3 separate regions of the Homo sapiens genome follow, and regions 2 and 3 are each linked to region 1. Evidence: fine-mapped expression QTL. A gene starts in region 1. Each other region holds a variant in brackets. All regions are shown on one strand. Distances are between the middles of the regions.

Region 1 (6,544 bases):
CGAAGCAGGGCCAGCCCGGTGGCTCACACCTGTAATCCCAGCACTCTGGGAGAACGATGCAGGAGAATCACTTAAAGCCAAGAGCTTGAGACCAGCCTGGGCAACATAGTGAGACTCCATCTCTACGAAAAAGAAAATGAAAATTAGCCAGGCATGGTAGCACACACCTGTAGTCCTAGCCACTTGGAAGGCTAAGGCTGGAGAATCACTTGAGCCCAGGAAATTGAGACTGCAGTGAGCTGCAGTCACATGACAGAACTCCAGCCTGGGCAACAGAGTGAGACTCTGTCCAGAAAAATAAAAAAGAAGAAGGAAGGAAGGAAAAAAAGGAAGAAAGAAAAGAAGAGAAAAAGGAAAAAAATCTAAAAATTAAATAAGTATCTTAGCAAGTATAGAATTCTATTCGGAAGCAAAATGTGAATGTGTATACAGATATAAATTAAGCCAGAATAGGCCGGGCATGGTGGCTCACGCCTGTAATCCCAGCACTTTGGGAGGCCGAGGCGGGCAGATCACGAGGTCTGGAGATCGAGTCCATCCTAACTAACACGGTGAAACCCCGTCTCTACTAAAAAAAAAAAAAAAAAAATACAAAAAAATTAGCCGGGCTTAGTGGCAGGCGCCTGTGGTCCCGGCTACTCGGGTGGCTGAGGCAGGAGAATGGCGTGAACCCAGGAGGCGGAGCTTGCAGTGAGCCGAGATCGTGCCACTGCCCTCCAGCCTGGGTGATAGAGCGAGACTCTGTCTAAAAAAAAAAAAAAAAAAAAAAATTAAGGCAGAATAATCATGTCCTAAATTTAAGTAGTACATTCTACCATGCCACAAAAATCTGTAATAAACAGAAAGTATGCCTATCTGTTTCATTTTACCTACGTGGGTGTGAAATGTATGGATTTAGCTTTTGCATAATGATAAAGGCCACCACCCCTCACAACATGTTGGTTTTAAAGTCACTGATAGACAATCTTATCCAAAACAACTCCAACCAAATCACCTACTAACTACAGTTACCACTTTAGTCCTGATGGTTTATGTAACACAAGTTAGCTCAGCTATAATTGCACTTCAATAAAAATATATCAAAGCTGGAAGAGGTTAGGAACTCAGGGTTTTAGTTGGTAGCATTACTACTAATAATAGTAACATAATAATAATAAGGCGAAGAACAACATTTCATGGAAATCTACAGGGAGAGATAACTTGGCAGTGTAAAGAGGGAGGCCTCTGTGTTCAACTATTACTGCCTCTGCTTAACTGTGTGACCCAGGCAAGGTACTGAACCTCTCTGTGCCTCTATCTCCTCGCTTCAGAAATGAGAAAAAGCCTAGCGCCTACCTCGCAAGCTGCAATCCCTGGCACACAATAGTCACTAAATCTTAACTGTTGCCAATAGTGTTATTGTTGTTGTTGTTGTCATTGTCACTTATTATTACTGCAATTTACAGAGAACTTTCACATACAATAGCTAATGACTATTAAGTAATAGCACAAAGAAATACTTAATTTAAAGGGTAATTACATCACATGTCAAGTATATGGGAAAGGGTATGATTTCCACCAGCATCCTTTGTGCTTGCCTTCTGGTTTGTCAGAAAGAGCCAGTCATATCTAAATTGTGATTGGATGGATGTAAAAGGAAGTAACAGACAGAGTAGTTAATAACAGCTAACATTTATGGAGTACTCACAATGTTCCAGATAGTTTATTCAGCATTTATATGCATTACCATTATTTAATCTTATTATAAATGTTACAGCTGAGGGATGGAGCCAAGCCAGGTTCCATAACCTTCCCAAGGTTACTGGGGAGTCAACCCAGGCAGGTTGACTTTGGAGGATGTGCCAGACCACTACCCTCCTGCCCAGGACTGACTTCCGTTAGAAAACAAACGTGCAAAACATTCTGATCATTTTGCTTATTATCAACAACAGAAACAACCAGTATTGTGCTCATCTCTCTAAATGAAGACACAGGCACATATTCACTTTACAGGAGTTACCCTTTCTCTGGACCAGCAATCCTCTTAGAACCGCTAATGAGGATCATCTAAATTCTCATCCCTGGTGAGCAACATTTTTCCTTGTACTTCTTGAATTCTAGCTTACATATTTAACATAAAATTATATGTTCAATCATTCAATAATTCTGGGATTCCCTTAAAGTGTAATATCAACCAATCCCAGTTACTAAAAAATGTCACAACAAAAATACCCCTTGCACTAATATCCTTGCACTAATATCAGGGTTCTTAGCAAGCAGGTCAGTAATCAACAAATCCTGAATTGTAAATAAATATTATATGCATATATATATATATATATATATATATATATATATGCATTTTCCTGTTCTGGAAGACAAGTCCATTCATTAGATTGTTCAGAAGGCCCCAAAATGTTAAAAAAATGACTATTCATTTAGATAGAGGGCCTCCCAAGACAAATTACATCATTATATTCATTTTAAAATCTTTGGGGGTTCTCAAATGGAATAAATACTGCAATTCAATGCCTTATGATTTCATGCCAGCGTGACAGCAAAACTCATAAGGGACAGGATTCTGGATTAAGAATGAGGAGACTTGCTCTAGCAGAAATTCTCTGTATAGGTGACCTTGGGGAAATCACTGAAAATTTCAGGACTTTGTTCCATGATCTGGAAAGTGACTGTGTTTTAAAAGGTGATTTCAGGGTTTCCCCCACAGCTCTATGACTCTATAACATAATAATACCACAGGTGCAATGCAAAATAAGACAAAAATTACTCCAGCCACTTACATCGCTAATGAGTTCCGTGCATTTTCTGGCCAATTCCATGCTTAAGTCTTCAATAACAGGCTTATAGAAGACCTATTTGAAAAAAAAGAAAAGAACAGAAAGAACATTTTTCTCATTGTCAATTTAGAGGAACAAACGCTGGTCTGAGTATGTGTTTTCTCACTCACCTGGTCTTCTTCATTTTCTTCTTCCCCTATCTTTTCTTCTTCAGTTTCATCTTTTATATCCTCAAATACAGGGACCCTCATTTTTACCCTTTAAAATATTTATATTTTTAAAATTTACTCATGTGGCGTCCTTTTCCATACCACAGTGCCCTTGAGATGCTGACGTCTCTGGTGCTCTGGCAGAAATGCCCTTGCCCAAGCCTCAGCCCTATTTAGCCCACACTTCACTCCTTATCTCAGTGGTGTGTGAGTGAACAGAAAAGGATCCCAGAGGTCTACCAGGCTGGCCTCACAAGTGGAAATAACATATTCTTAAGCAAAATTTGATTTTATGAACTTTTAAAGTCAACATTTTTTCCACTGGTTAAGAAATCCAAAAGAAAAAATTTATTTATCTTTTACTAATTCTATTCATTCATAAAAGAGCATAAAAAGGACTTAGAGATTCTGGGAAAACTACTCAGCTCTAACACTCAAGATAGCACAGTCCAAAGCCTGTTATCTCAAAGATTCCTTGTCTCTGTCTAAATAAAGCTTTCACTGGAATGTCAGACTTCCTTCTGACTTGGGGTAGTGAATCTGGATCATTCAAACTCATTTTGTCAACCTAAATTATATGTTTTATCAGACATACCAGTACTTCTCACATCCTAAAAAATACCCACTTTATATTAGCTGATTAGAGGCTACTTATTTATTATGAAAAGCCCTTTGAACCACTTCAAAGAATCTATTCTGAGTTAATTATGACTGTTAGTATTATACTGGCGAGTATGGTATTGTATTAATTGTAAACATCATTAAACATGAGAAGTTGCAGTTAACATATGTTGATACATAATTTAACAATTCTGGAAACATCGTTTCAAAAATCATCATCATCATCTTTGAATTCTGCAGTTCTACTCATCATGTCAATTTTTACAAAGTCATTGGTGATTTGCATTATTACTCAATGGGCACCCCACATTCAGAAAAGTTTGGAAAAATAAACCATCACAATATTTATAATGTAGTGTATGTCCTTGGTTACGTAAAACCAAGGTTAAAAAAAAATTTCTCAAAACAAATATTTTAATGTCAATTCAGGCAATTCCAAGACTCCCTACAACTCACAATTTATTAATCTGGTTATGTAAATCCTAGGGTAAATTAATTTTACCAAGTCATAGCACATTAGCATTGGGCATAAAAAATACCCTACACTGAATAGTAATACTGATGATACAAAATACAAATTTATTAAAAATAGTATGTCATTCTAAGTAGCCAAGCATAATTTTTTCTCTTGATATCATATCTAGTTTTCAATGTACTGTAAAAAAAAAATGCCTTGGCCTTACCTAAACTGAAAATCCTGACAAGAAAAACATTCTACACAGTCATCACGTATAAATTATTTCTGAAATTGTGTTCCATGAGGCAAAAGTTCCACAAAAGATTCTGGGGGAAAAAAGCAGGTTTCTTAAACAAATATGTTTGGGAAATCTGTACCCCAGTCTCTGTCCCTGCCACTTAGAGATCTACAAGGCATATTGACATACTAGAAGTTCTGAGAAGACCTTCAACCAAAAAACCTGCTTAGGCTTGCTTAACCTCGTGTTCCCCTGAACACAAACCTGTTTATCTCATCAAATCTAATCCAATTTAATCTAATCTACCTACCTACCTATCTACCTATCTTTTTTTTAATCATACCCACTACCCCAGAAAACTAACACTCCTCTGTGAAATATGACCGACTGCTTAGGGAAACATTGCTCTATTCTCCTAAAATGTTGTGTTCTAGAAGGAGCTGTTGGTCTTGAACTAGTTTTTGATACAGGCTAAATTAATGGTATCACATATCCTGTTCACCAACAAAATACCAAAAAGAAATTGCCTCAAGCATGCTGAACTTGGAAACCACAACTCTAAGATTACAGCCATATCATGCTGGCCCAGTGTAGTGGATTCCACAAGGACATTCCTTGTATATTTTATTTGTTCCGTAAAAGGAAAGAATGTGTGCATTCCAATTATTTCCCTCAAGTCCTCTGCTGGCCAGAAGACTATTCTAATATTCTATAGATCTATTACATTATCTTTATTTGGAAATAGGGAGGAGTAATTTCTGTAAACTTGTCTTGCAAATTTCTAGGAGTGTAGGGAGAAAATCTTGCCAAAACTGCCTGAGACACACCTTTTGGCTCATATTTGAGGAGACAGTACTGGTGTTACTCAGGGTGACACCTATTCCCCAAGGTGAATTACCTTCATCAGGCTTGCAGTGCAGTTATTTCTCATTTCCCATCACGTAATATGTTCTTAGGGACTCTTCACTGTGCTGCAAGAAAATAAGCTGTTGAGATTTAATGCACAAACTTTTGAAAACAAAAACCAAACACCACGTGCAATGTGAACACAAATTTTCCATTTGAGATTCTAGAATCAGAATTTCAAGCCAAAGGGATCCTTAAGAAATCAATACACCTAAAGCCCTCTCTTTCACAGATGACAAAATGAAGGCTATGAAAAATTATGTGTCTCATTTACAAAGCCATTCAATGAAGCACTAGGATCAGAACCTAACTAGAGACCTGTGTTCATTTGTTCAACAAATAAATGTTGTTATGCCAGGCACTGTGCTTGGTGTTAGAGATAGAATGGTGAATAAAATATTCTTCATACTAAGATAGAATTGGAAATAAAATACTCATCACTCAACACTTGCTGGATGAAGTCTTTAATGGATCGTTTGGCAAGCTAGAGACACCATTACTTTTGATTGAATACATCTTTTTTCCTCTCACCTATAATATAAAATTCATGCAAAGTTTTCTCTAAAAAAGTGTTAAGCCCTGCACTTCATCACAGCAAAGTTTTCTTGTCAGTAGCTCTAAAATATGACATGGAGAATATGAAGAAAGTGTTCCTCATGGACAGCTATCATGTTTCAAAATCCCCTATCGACTTTTCCAAAAACCAAGCTTAATGTATTTTAATAGATATTTTCACCTTGGGTTGCTCCAAAAGGCAAAATCTCTGTAGCTGCTCATAGCTTTTACTTATTGGGCACTTCTTTTATGTTGTTTACTTTTCTACTTTAGTACTCTACGCATGCCTTGATACAGAATGAGACCAAGAGACATCACTTATGGCTAAACTCTCAAAGTCCAGGTCTGGCTCTGCCATGTCCTCTAGGGCAAATTATTCAACCCCTCACTACCTCTAATTCTTCATAGTTAAACAGAAAAACTGAGTTGACAGAAGTTAATAAAAAGAAAGCACTGGCTGGGTGCGCAGTGGCACACGCCTGTAATCCCAGCACTTTGGGAGGCTGAGGCAGGCAGATCACAAGGTCAGGAGTTCGAGACCAGCCTGACCAACATGGTCAAACCCCGTCTCTAGTAAAAATAGAAAAATTAGCCGGGCATGGGCTGGGTGCGGTGGTTCACGCCTGTAATCCTAGCACTTCGGGAGGCCAAGGCAGGTGGATTGCTTGAGCTCAGGAGTTCGAGACCAGCCTAGGCAACATGGTGAAACCCCATCTCTACTAAAATACAAAAAAAAAAAAAAAATTAGCCGAGTGTGATGGCAGTAGATGGGATTACGCCTGTA
Region 2 (6,544 bases), 310 kb after region 1:
GAACTTCAGTCCTACTGGGGTCCTCTGGGAGATGGCTTAGAACAAGCCTCAGAATTAGTTACCCCCACTGTGGAGGGAGAAATCCAAACTGCTTGTCTTCTGTTATGGACTGAACATATTTGTCCCCTCAAAATTCATACGTTGGAGCTCTAACCCCAGTGTGACGGTATTTGGAGTAAGGAAGTAGTTAAATTAAAATTAAATGAGGTCATCGGGGTGAGTCCCTGATCCGATAGGATTAATGTCATTGTAAGAAGAGACAGTAGAGACCTTTCTCTCTCTCTCTTTCTTTCTCTCTCTCTCTCTCTTTCCATGCGCACATGATGACAGACCATATAAAGATACAGCAAGAAGGCAGCTGTCTGCAAGCCAGGAAAAGAGCCCTCACCAGAAACTATACGGGCCAGAACTTTGATGTTGGACTTCCCGCCTCCAGAACTGTGAGAAAATGGATTTCTATCGTTTAAGGCTTCCAGGCTGTGGGATTCTGTTAAGGAAGCCCTAGCAGAGGAATACATCCTGTGATTCTCTTTTGTCCTGAGGGCATCATCACTCCATGACACCCAGCCTGCCCTGCCTGGGGTGGGCAGAGCATTGTCAGAGGCAGCCCTCAGGAGAGAATCACAGGTACTTTCAGAATCACAGGTGACTGAGGAAGGAGTGGTGGGTGCCAAGCAACTGCAGGTGGGGCATTGACAGAGCCTGCTGCACTCCCCGTCATGAAACCATGACATTTAGCATTCTGGGGCAGCAGACGTGGTTTTTTTCTGCTGCATCATTTTCATCCCTTTTCCTGGCTGCCTAGCCTTGCACCAGGGTCCTGCCCTCCAAGGATTCAAAGAGCTACTATTTCATAAACTACTTTCCTGCTTCAATCAGTCAGAGTCCATTTCTGTTGTTTGCAACTAAGAATGCTCACTGTGCACTCCAAGTTGCATCTAGGCATGAAAACAAGAATTTATCAGTGTTATCTGCATCTTCCAACCCAATATTACAACAATAAAGGTGTCTAATTCATGACTGAAACAAGGCAAATTGGTACATGACCCTGAAGGGATACTATTTACAAAGTAAGATTACAATATCTGCCCCAAATGTGTAGCAAAAGCCTTAACATTTTGTTTACCATGTAGTCCAGCAGTTCTATTTCTAGCTAATTTGTCCTAAAATAATTGGACAAGAGCTGAATGAATGTGTATTGTGATGAACACATAATGATATTTAGGGCAATGTATATAATGTCAAAAATAAGAAATCAAATGTCCAAAATCAAGAGAATATTTAAACAAATTACAGTGTATCTTTAGTGGAATACTTTGCAGCTATTAAAAGTGACATTGCAGAAGTATATTTTTAATATGAAAAAATACTCATGATGTAAGCAAAAAAACAAATTACAGAACAATATAGATCCCATTTTTGTAAGAAGAAAACTTATTACATCTTGGACAAAATTCTGAAAGAATATATACCAATATATTATGGAAAAAAACACAATTACTTTGGCACCAACCTATTAATCAAAGCTAAATTTGGGTAGTAGAACAAAGGTGATTTTTATTTTCACCTTATATTTAGGTATATTTATGATTGCTCTATAATAAGTATTAGATACTAACCAAATTTTTACATAATAATAATAATACCTATTCTACCTCATTCACAGGGATAGGTAGGAAAGTGTGATTGTCACTAAAAATTTCATAAACATGCAGCTAAGGAAAGCCTCCATAGAATAAGATATATGATAATCTCCAAAACAATTTAGCATATAATTTCACAATGCATCAGTAGGACTGCTATGATTAGTATCAGCAGGCACAAAAATATCGTTAAGATTATGCATGAACCATTAGTCATCAGGTGCCAATTAATATGGGAATTCACTCAGTACTAAAAGTACAAACCTAAGATTGTCTTCAGCATCAGCTTCATCAGGATGTTCTGGAATAAAACCAATTACAAGAGACCAAAAAGTCCTGGCCAATAAAATGATCATTGGATTATATAAAATATTAGTAACGCAATGCATCTTGCTAATATCCTAATCGCTGTTAGCAGGAACACTTTTAAATCCTAAGGAGACAGAATTAAGTAAGGAGCTCTGGCAGAAGAATTAAAGCAAATGTATACATTGAATACTACTAAAATAAGTTATTTTGTCCTGGCAACTCTAATGCTTTGATAAATAAGTTACTCAACATCTTACAGAACTTGGAATTTAACATGTGCTAGTGAAAATTCAGAAGTCGTTCCTTTTACATGCTTGTCACATGGCCAAAATATTTTTATCTCAAAAATAAGTTGTAGCCATGAATTTAGCCCCCAGGGGCTGAGATCTAACCAGGGGGGTAGAAACTGTGGATTGCTCCTCACCCTCCCTTACTGTAACTGTAATAGGTTCATTGCCTGCCCATTGCTTATGGGAAGTCAACATACCTAGACACTGGGTTGCAGCAGAGAAAAAGTTTTGTAGTAGGGCCACTGAATGAGGAGACAGGAGGAACCTCAAATCTATCTCACCAAGGAGTTTGAGGCTAGGGTTTTCGAGAGTTTGGGAGTGGGCTGAAGTATAGAGATCGTTGACTGGTAGAAGAGTGCCAGAAGAAGTCGTGGGACAGGGAGATGAAGAAGCTGTATTCCCACGCCAATCCCATTCCTCTGTGGGGATTTTCCAGCTGGTTGTCATCAGCTGTTTCACTGGAATTCAGGACCAGAAAAAAACATAACTAAGTAATTCTTAAATAAAAGCCTTACAATTCCAATGTTGGGGATCCTATCTTAAGCAAAAGCCATATTATCATTTTCTTTTTCTTTCTTTTTTTTTTTTTTTTTTTTTTTTAGACAGAGTCTTGCTCTATAGCCCAGGCTAGAGTGCAGTGGTGCAGGCTCGGCTTACTGCAACCTCTGCCTCCCAGGTTCAACTAATTCTTCTGCCTCAGCCTCCTCAGTAGCTGGGATTACACACACCCACTACCACGCCTGGCTAATTTTTGTATTTGTAGTAGAGATGGGGTTTCACCATGTTGGCCATGCTGGTCTCAAACTTCTGACCTCAGGTGATTCACCTGCCTTGGCCTCCCAAAGTGCTGGGATTACAGACGTAAGCCACCACGCCCAGCCAAAAGCCATATAATTCTAATGTCAGACATCCTATCTATAGGAATGATGGGGATGTGAATGGTCTATATCTAGTACTATGTGACTTTCAGTCATAAGGAAGTGAGTCAAAGTACAGCCTGATTAATGCTTAATTATAACAATATTTCTGCCCAGAATTCTTATTAACTCTATAAAGATGGCATCATTGTCCCCTTTCCAACATCCTAACAAAACCCAGATTTGGTTTTTGTATTGACTGTGCACACACACACAGCCTGTTGTCCCCTCCTTTCTCCACCCTACTTTGCCCTAGAAGCCTGACCCTGCTGGACTACATCATGGGCTCTCATGACCTTGAGCTTCTGGTTGGGTTTGGCCAATGGGAGCCCCTGCAGGAGATCATGGAGCAGGGGAAGGGTAAATCCAGGGTAGTTCTTTCCCTGGCTCCCTCCTTACAGACTGGTTGCATCTCTCAGCCTAAGGTCCTAGCACTGGAAAAGCAGCCCTCTACCCACAGACTAGCTATACCTATGGAACATCTGTCTCTAGGTTCTAGAAACCATTCATTTAAAAAGTGGACAGAAGATACAGGGTCCAATGGGGTGAATCTCAGGATTCTTAACTTGGAACGT[A/C]GGCCCGAAGCAGTCTCTCTTATGACAGATACTGTTGAATTAGTTGATCCCAAAGAATCCAGCGTCTCAGTGGTGTCACAGGACCAACAGGTTCATATGTCCACTGCACAGTAACAAACCAACTACACTGAGACAGCAGAGTTTGCAGCAGAGAAAGAGTTTAATGATCACAGGGTGCCAAGTGAGGATATGAGAGGAAAACCTCAAATCCATTTCCCTGAGGAGTTCTAGGCTGGGGTTTTTAAGAAGATTGTGGAGGATAAAGGGCTAGGAAATTGGGGTCATTGATTGGTCAAGGTAAGATGGATGAAATCATCAGGACATAGAAATTGCATTCTTTGATGACTCAGCTCATGGGGGTCCTTCAGACCAGCTAACGTCTAGTTTCACTAGTATGCAGGACCTGAAAGAGTATCTCAAAAGGAAAAATTAATGTCTCATAATGTGCAAGTTGTTGTCTTTAGGGCAGTTAAGGGAACTATAATCTTGTAACAGGTTCTAGCAATTCTGAGGCAATAGGTACTGAACAACTACAAGGAAGAGGTCAGACAGCAGGCTGACCTCATGATTAATGCTGAATATGCTAAAACTTGGTTTATTTTTGTTTCTCTCCCTCCCTCCTTCTCTAATTAATTTTATAAAGTTTATAGGGACAGTTTCAGTGGCTGACACAAGGGAAGTTTATTTCTTGCTCATGTTACAGAACAGTGAGGGTCAGCATGAAATGAGAGGGATCTACTTCCAGAAGTCACCATGAACCCAGGCTGCTTTCTTCCAATGTCTCCACTATTCCCTATGGCCCCTGTTCTTGCTGCAGGTGGGGAGAGCACGAGCAAGGAGCAGGCCTGGAAGTCACATACATTCCTTCCACCCACATTCCATGGGCTGGAACTCAGCCCTACAACCCCACTTAACTGCAGGGGCCTGGGAAAACGTAGTCCAACAGCATGGCAGGGAAAAAGAAAACAGAACAGTTTGGTAAACAACCAGCCAGTCTGCACCTCACCCTTCCAGCAAGGAGTAGCTAGATAAGTCAAGACTGCTCCTGGTAGCATGTGATAGGAACTGAACTATGGTGACTCGGCCAAATAAGGGTGCCCTTTGTTTGTTTTTATACAGCAAGGAATCTGGGAGTAGGTAACTCAGAGATGTTTAAGGAATCCGGCTTCTCCTCCCTTCTTTCTCTGCAATCCTTAAAGTATGAATTCTGTCTCCCAGTTGCAAGATGGTGCCAGGTATTCTGCCCAAATTCCAGGCAGGGGAAAGGTGAAAGGGCAAAGTGCAAATGACAAAAGGAATGTGTCTGACAAGTTTAGTCGCTTTTTAAAAAGACTTTTCTGGAAGCCCCCCTCTCATAGGATGGTCTCTTTCATGACTACACTGCCTTAAGAAAACCTAGGGAAGGGTTGCCAGATAAAACACAGGACGTTCGGTTAAATTTGAATTTCAGATAAACAACAAATAATTTTTAGTATAAGTATGTATGTCCCATGCTGGGTATCCTGTTTTTTGTTTGTTTTTGCTAAATCTGGAAAGTCTAGCCTCGGGAGATGTGTATTTTTTCATGGATACATTGCCCCTCTGAAAAAAGTCAAGATTCTGTTGAAAAGAAAGAGAGGAAAATGGACTTCAGGTAGGCAGCTGGAAGTATATGTCCCAGTGACCACAGGACCCAATACGTGCCAATAGCACATAAGCAGAAGTCTGCAGGATGTGTCTTCCAGGAAGTTTCTCCTATCTCCTGATACAATTAGGCACCTGACCTTTTTTTTTTTTCTTTTTTTTTTTTTTCTTTTTTTTACCACAGTTGTGACTCCTGGAGGACCAGGAGCCATCTTGAGATCACGAGGTAACAAACATGAGAACAGAGGCCTACACGTCAAAGATGGAGAAACAGAAAGATAATCAGTGCCTGGGTCCAGAAGGGATTGTTGCCCTGCTGGGGAAGGCTATCCAGGCTGACACTGTCTTTCCTTGCACTCCACGATTATCCTTGTGGAGCCAGGAACTGGTGTCACGCTTGTCAGGATGAGGGACCTTAGAATTAAACCAAGACCAAAAAGAGGATACAGCTGATAGAATTTCCCCAAAACCAGACCCATTTGGTTAAGCTGACCCTAAAGCCCCAATTGCTCAATACCTCCAGTTCCACGAGCCTCAAAATGTCCTTATTGTTTAAGATCATTTGAAGCAAGGTTTCTGTTCCTTGTAGGAAAAACATCATGGGCAGGGCATGGTGGCTCACACCTCTAATCCCAGCACTTTGGGAGGCCAAGACAGGCAGATCACCTGAGGTCAGGAATTTGAGACCAGCCTGGACAACATGGTGAAACCCTGTCTCTACCAAAAATACAAAAAACTTAGCTGGGTGTGGTGGCAGGCGCCTGTAATCCCAGCTACTAGTGAGGCTGAGGCAGGTGAATCACTTGAACCTGAGAGACGGAAGTTGCAGTAAGCCGAGACTGCACCACTGCACTCCAGCCTGGGTGACAAGCAAAATTCTGTCTCAAAAAAAAGAAAGAAAGAAAAACATCCTAACTAAGAAAACCAAACTCTCCAGTCCAATACATATACTTCTAACAGATTTGACATTTATCTCATTATACAAATATGCAGAAAGAAAATTAACATTAGGCAATATAACATTGCTGCCATTTTTAAGGAGGAATATGTATATTTTTACAAACAAAAATTCAAAGCAAAATCATACAATTAAATGTTTGTGTCAAGTATGTTTTTTCCATATCATTCTATGTATCTTGTAAGGCCTGTAAATAGATTAAAATTTTTGTTGTTACTTATTCCCACTG
Region 3 (6,544 bases), 320 kb after region 1:
GATCATGAGGTCAGGAGTTCGATACCAGCCTGGCCAACACAGTGAAACCCTGTCTCTACTAAAGACACAAAAATTAGCTGGGCATGGTGGCACACACCTGTAGACCCAGCTTCTTGGGAGGCTGAGGCAGAAGAATTGCTTGAACCCAGGAGATGGAGGTTGTGGTGAGCCGAGATCGCACCACTGCACTCTAGGCTGGGCAACAAAGCAAGACTCCATCTCGAAAAAAAAAAAAGAAAAAGAAAAAAGAAAAGAAACACGAAAACCCATCACTACTAAATATACAAAAATTAGCCGGGTGTGGTGGCACGTGCCTGTAATCCCAGCTACTTGGGAGGCTGAGGCAGGAGAATCGCTTGAACCCAGAAGGTGGAGGTTGCAGTGAGCCAAGATCGCGCCACTGCACTCCAGCCTGGGAGACAGAGCAAGACTCAGTCTCGAAGAAAAAAAAAAATCATACTTTTGCTAATTTTACTAAACTACTACCATAGGAACACAATACCCCTGGGAAGGGGCTCTGCACTGAGGGGACCTGATGTGAGTGTCGTTAGCTTCAAGGTAAGTCCACCTCTGCACGCACAGTTGTTGGGGAAGACTTCTTCAGCAGCACCCAGAGAAGCTGGCATCCCCCCAAAATCTAAAACAGATGAGAGGGTAGTTATCAGGTTAAGTATACAGAATTTACTTAAGAGGTCATGGAGAGGAATCCAGAAGTTTCCTCCAAATTGAGCCACAGCCAGAGACAGAGAAAGCAAAACAATCATGAGCCCAAGTCACAAGGGACAGTGCTCCAAATTACAGGCATAGACTTGCCAAGGAGCTGCTTCTCACAGGGGAAACTCTATCTGGTTTGTTTCGGAGTGGGGAGCAGCAGCTATTTATTTATTTAAAGGTGGTGAACAGCTCTCCCAAATATTGCCAGGTGGCCAGCAAGTTCTAAATACGACTGGCTTCCAATAATTTGAAAACTTTAACATTGATAGCATCTGCTGTTGAGAAAAAAAAGTGTAGGCTTTGGGTGCCACACAACTGTGGATTCAAATCCAGGCTCTGCTAGTTACTAGCTATATGACCCTAGATAAGATACTTCGCTGCTTGGAATCTTGGTCTTCTCACCTGCAAATGGGTTTAACAATATTTACTCTATAGTATTACTTGAAGATTCATGGTATTTGTGACAATTCTGCCACAAATGAAATTTTCATCAAATAGTAGTCATTATTATAAAGCTGTATTTTCCATTTATTTTGGCTTGGCACAAAGATGATTCAAACCTCATCTGCAATTTGTGCATTTCCATCTGGCAGCAACCAACAAGTCAGCTAAGATGGCGACTTACTCTAAGGGTGCAACCTACAGCAAGCCTGTCCATCACAGTACTAGCCAGCTAAAGTTTGTTACAAGCTTTCAGTCTGCTGCGGAGGGACAAGCTGGACATCATTTGGGGCTCTGAGAGTCTTGAGTTCTGACCTGGTCGGTGAGCTAGTGTACGAATATTCCACATACAAATTCTTTGGCCTCATGGATACTTTTCATAAAGCTACCGGAAGAAATCCTGACACCCAGGCAATCACCAAGCCAGGCCACAAGTACAGGGACAGATATGGGCTGCTATCTGTAGGCGCAAGAGCCTTGGCCCTGGAAAGGGCCACTCATCCCAACATCCTGTGGCGATCGTCACCAGGCAGGTGGGAAAAGACACAACACTCCCCAGCCCCACCGTTACCATCGATAAAAGTAATGTTTGCAAAATGCATACCTAACAATTTAGGACAGTTCAGGTCTGCTTGATAGTGTTCTTTAATTTGCCTGTTTAAACCATTCTACAGATAGTTTCATGACTGTCAGATTACAAAAGTTACAATGCAATGATATTTGAAGACTCTATGTGATGGTGTGTCTTCTTTCTCATAAGATAAAATTTTTTTATCTTTGCTTTATCTTATAAAGGAGTTATATATCAGACATGCTGTGTGGTATAATAGATGTAAAATAAATTATTTAAAAGAGGAAAAAATGCAGGAGTGTTGAGGAGGAAAAACTTTTCCTCTGCCCATGGAACACAAAAGTTCCATGACTTGGGTCCTTCACATTTAACTGATAAAAGACAGATTAAACAGGAGAAATGGAATACACAATTTATCGATATCTACATGCACTGGGAGGTCACAGAAAAGAAGGAGAACCCAAGGAAGTGATCAGACTTGGGGACACATGCCATTGTAACAAAGGAAAAAGGGTTTGGGCTTCAAGGGAAAATAAATTGCAGCAAAGTGAGTAGGAACTATATGGAGAAAGCTAACGGGAGATAAGGGTTATTTTCGTAAAATCTGTTTATGCACATTCATTTTGCTGACCCTCCAACTTCCTGGTACATTTGCTCTCCTCTTCCTGGTACAGGACAGGGGAAACCTTCACAGACGGAACCTTATGCCCTGCTTTTAGGCAGAAAAGAGGAGAGAAGAGAATGCTTCCTATTTGATTCTCATTGCCTTCAGCTCAAAATAATCCTCATGCCACAGTGGCATATTTTGGGATGGCATACCCCAATCCCCTGCAGGAGCATGTGGTCAGGCCAAGACATCAGCCTTTGATTTGTTATAAATGAAAACTTTCTAAAAATGTGAGTTGGGTGTGTGTTTGATGTGTATTTGGTTTAGGAATAAAGTGAGAAAAGGTATTAATTATAAGTAATAAATGAAATTAAAAATGTATTTTTTATAAGTGAGGGCTATATAAATTACAAAGTAGTCAGGACTGACTTAAAGCCTAGAATTTCTGCTACTAAAATGTATATTTCGGAGGCTAAAACCAACCTATTGACATTCAAGAGTATTGAAGCAAATGTAAATGTGTCTGTACTCCTAGACTCTATTACCATTTTTTTCCTCAAATAAGCTCATTTTGGCATTTAAAAAACAACTGATATTTTTACTCCAGTAGCATGCTGTTTTGATTACTATAACTTTGTGGAACATTTTGAAATGAAGTAGTGTGATGCCTGTAGCCCAAGACTGCTTTGACTATTCCTGGTCTTTTATGGTTTCATATGAATTCTAGGACTGTTTTTTTCTAATGCTATCAGAATTTTGATAGAGATTGCATTGAATCTATAGATCGATTTGAGTAGTATATGTATTTTGACAATATTAATTCTGCCAATTCATGAACATAGGATGTTTTTTCACTTATTTGTGTTCTCTTCAACTACCTTTATCAATATTTTACAGTTTCCAGTGTACAGATGTTTCACCTTGGTTTAATTTATTCCTCAATTTTTTGTGCTATTGTAAATGAGATTATTTTCTTGGGTTTTTTTTTTTTTTTGGAAAGTTCATTGTTAGTGTATACAAATGCTATTAATTTTTGTTTGTTTGTTTGTTTAGACAGAGTATTGCTTTGTTGCCCAGGCTGGAGTACCATGGGACGATCTCGGCTCACTGCAACCTCCACCTCCCAGTTCAAGCAATTCTCCTACCTCAGCCTCCCAAGTAGCTGGGATTACAGGCACCCACCACCATGCCTGGCTAATTTTTGTATTTTTAGTAGA[G/A]GCAGGATTTCACCATGTTGGCCAGGCTGGTCTCGAACTCCTGACCTCAAGTGATCCGCCCATCTTGGCCTCCCGAAGTGCTGGGATTACAGGCATGAGCCACCATGCCCGGCGTGATTTTTGTATGTTGATTTTGTATCCTGCAACTTTACTGAATTCATTTATTAGTTCTAACAGCTTGCATCTGGCATAAAAACAGACATATAGACCAATGTAACAGAGCAGAGAGCTCACAGATAAATCCACACTATTATGATCAATTGATCTTTGACAAAAGTACCAAGAACATACAATAGGGAAAGGACAATCTTGACAATAAATGGTGTTAAGGAAACTAGATATCCACATGCAGAAGAGTGAAATTGGACTTTTATCTCCCACCATATACAAAAATCAACTCAAAATTAATTAAGGGCTTAAATGTAAGATCAGACACTATAATGCTACTAGAAGAAAACTTAGGGGAAAAGCTCCATGACATTGATCTGGACAATGATTTTCTGGATGTTACCCCAAAAGCAGAGGCAACAAAAGCAAAAATAGGCAAATGGGATTGCATCAAACTAAAAAGGTTCTGCACAGCAAAGGAAACAATCAACAGAGTGAAGAGATAACCTATGGAATGGGAGAAAATAATCTGCAAATCATACATCAGATAAGAAGTTAATATTCAAGATATATAAGGAACTCAACCAATTCAATATCAACAAAACAAATAACCTAATTTTAAAATGGACAAAGGACCTGAATAGATTCTTCTCAAAACAAGACATACAGTTGGGCATGGCGGCTCATGCCAGTAATCCCAGCGCTTTGGGAGGCCGAGGCAGGAGGATTACTTGAGCCAGGAGTCCCAGACCAGCCTGGGTAACACAGCAAGACTCCATGTCTACAAAAAATTTTAAAAATTAGCCAGGCGTAGTGGCATGCACCTGGAGTCCCAGTAGTCAGGAGCTGAGGTGGGAGGATTGCTTGAGCCCAGGAGTTGGAAGCTTCAGAGAGCTATAACCACACCACTGCACTCCAGCCTGGGTGACAGGGAGAGACTCTACCTCAAAAAACATATTTAAAAATAACTACATGAAGTGATGGATAGGTTAATTAGCTTGACTCATGCATTTCACAATGTATACATATATAAAAATATCACGTTGTACACTGTAAATATATACAACTTTTATTTGTCAATTGTACCTTAACAAAGCTGAGGGATGGGGATTTAAAAATAAAGAATAAAAAAATAACTGACACAAATGTGCGAGGCTACTCTGATGAGAGCTAAGCCCCTGCAGTCACAGCATGCTAAACTATCATTCAATGAGACACACGTAAGTCAGCCTTCATCTTCTCAGTGCATTCTTTCAAGTCCTACCTATTCTACAAGAAAAACAGATGTCTGATTTCTTTCTTTCTTTCTTTTTTTTTTGACAGAGGCTTGCTTTGTTGCCCAGGCTGGAGTGCACTGGCCCGATCTCGGCTCACTGCAAGCTCTACCTCCCAGGCTCAAGCGAGTCTCCTGCCTCAGCCTCCTGAGTAGCTGGGACTACAAGCACATGCCACCACACCCAGCTAATGTTTGTATTTTTAGCAGAGACAGGGTTTCACCACGTTGGCCAGGCTGGTCTTGAACTCCTGACCTCAAGTGATCCGCCCGCCTTGACCTCTCAGAGTGCCAGGATTACAGGCATGATTTCTTTTCACTTAAAAATAAAAACTTTTTAGCAAGTTACATCAGGGAAATTAAGAAAGTCCTGGCTTCTGTCCTCTCTCATTCATCTTTGTATTGTTCCTTTTTACATAAACACTGAGACCTAGGTGCCCATCCTGACTGCATGGCGTTGAGTGATGAAAGATGAGACCCCCTAGAAGGAGGTAGTGAGGCTCTGAGCAAGCCCGTTCTCTTTGGTGCCCCCGAGAACCAAATGGGAGCCTGTCATTGGGCTGCAGTGAACTCTGCCATGTTCATTTCAACAGGTTTTATACCACTATCTCATTTTGAAGTTTATATTTTGAAATTATGGTATACCCAAAATGAAGAGGTGCTTTCAAAAAGTTTAGTGATTTGGACTGGGCACGGTGGCTCACACCTGTAATCCCACCACTTTGGGAGGCCGAGGTGGGAGAATCGCTTAAGCCCAGGAGTTGAGAGGCCAGCCTGGGCAACACAGTGAGACCCTGTCTCTACCAAAAAAAAAAAAAAGGGTAATGATTTGAAACTAGGTTTCAGTTTAATTCTCACCATTTTTATATCCTAGAGAATAATTCCTTTAAATTACGTATTTTGCTTTGCTTTTTTCATTTTTTTACTCTTCAAATCTCATTTTCTCCTGTGAAATCCACAGTTTACTTGTTCTGTGTTTTTGGTGTTATTGTTGCTGATGGTGTTTTTGGTTAATATGATTAAAGAAAAACTTTTTTACTAATACCTTATTGCTGCCAATTCTAAAATTTCTAACCCTGCCAAGTCACTACTATTTTCTTTGTGTTACTTTTTTAATTTTTAATTTTTGTGGGTACATAGTAGGTGTATATATGTATGGGGTACATGAAATATTTTGATACAGGCATACAATGTGTAATAATCACATGGGGTAAATGGAATATCCATCACCTCAAGCATTTATCCTTTCTTTGCATTACAAGCAATCCAATTATGCTCTTTTAGTTTTCTTTTTTTTTGTTAGACAGAGTTTTGTTCTTGTCGCCCAGGCTGGAATGCAATGGTGCGATCTCAGCTCACTGCAACCTCTGCCTTCCAGGTTCAAGTAATTCTCTGGCCTCAACCTCCCAAGTAGCTGGGACTACAGGCATGCACCACCATGCCCGGCTAATTTTTGTATTTTTAGTAGAGACAGGGTTACAGCATGTTGGCCAGGCTGGCCTTGAACTCCTAACCTCAGGTGATCCACCCACCTTGGCTTCCCAAAGTGCTGGGATTACAGGCATGAGCCATCGCGCCTGGCTCTTTTAGTTATTTTTAAATGTACAATAAAT

Evidence for each region.
Region 2: its variant is fine-mapped to the expression of NEBL in whole blood (INTERVAL, PIP above 0.99).
Region 3: its variant is fine-mapped to the expression of NEBL in whole blood (TOPMed, PIP 0.98).

Annotation. Positions count from the first base shown.
Region 1 is chr10:20,894,181-20,900,724 of GRCh38, forward strand. It overlaps NEBL (nebulette), which reads right to left and starts at 3,131. Exons shown (of 28, transcript NM_006393.3): 1 at 2,945-3,131; 2 at 2,778-2,849. The coding sequence starts at 3,025.
Region 2 is chr10:21,204,151-21,210,694 of GRCh38, forward strand. It overlaps a transcript of NEBL not described here. Among named protein-coding and RNA genes, the nearest start is that of NEBL-AS1, 33 kb to the left of the region's middle. The variant A/C (reference allele first, on the strand shown) is at 3,735.
Region 3 is chr10:21,216,549-21,223,092 of GRCh38, forward strand. It overlaps a transcript of NEBL not described here. Among named protein-coding and RNA genes, the nearest start is that of NEBL-AS1, 46 kb to the left of the region's middle. The variant G/A (reference allele first, on the strand shown) is at 3,551.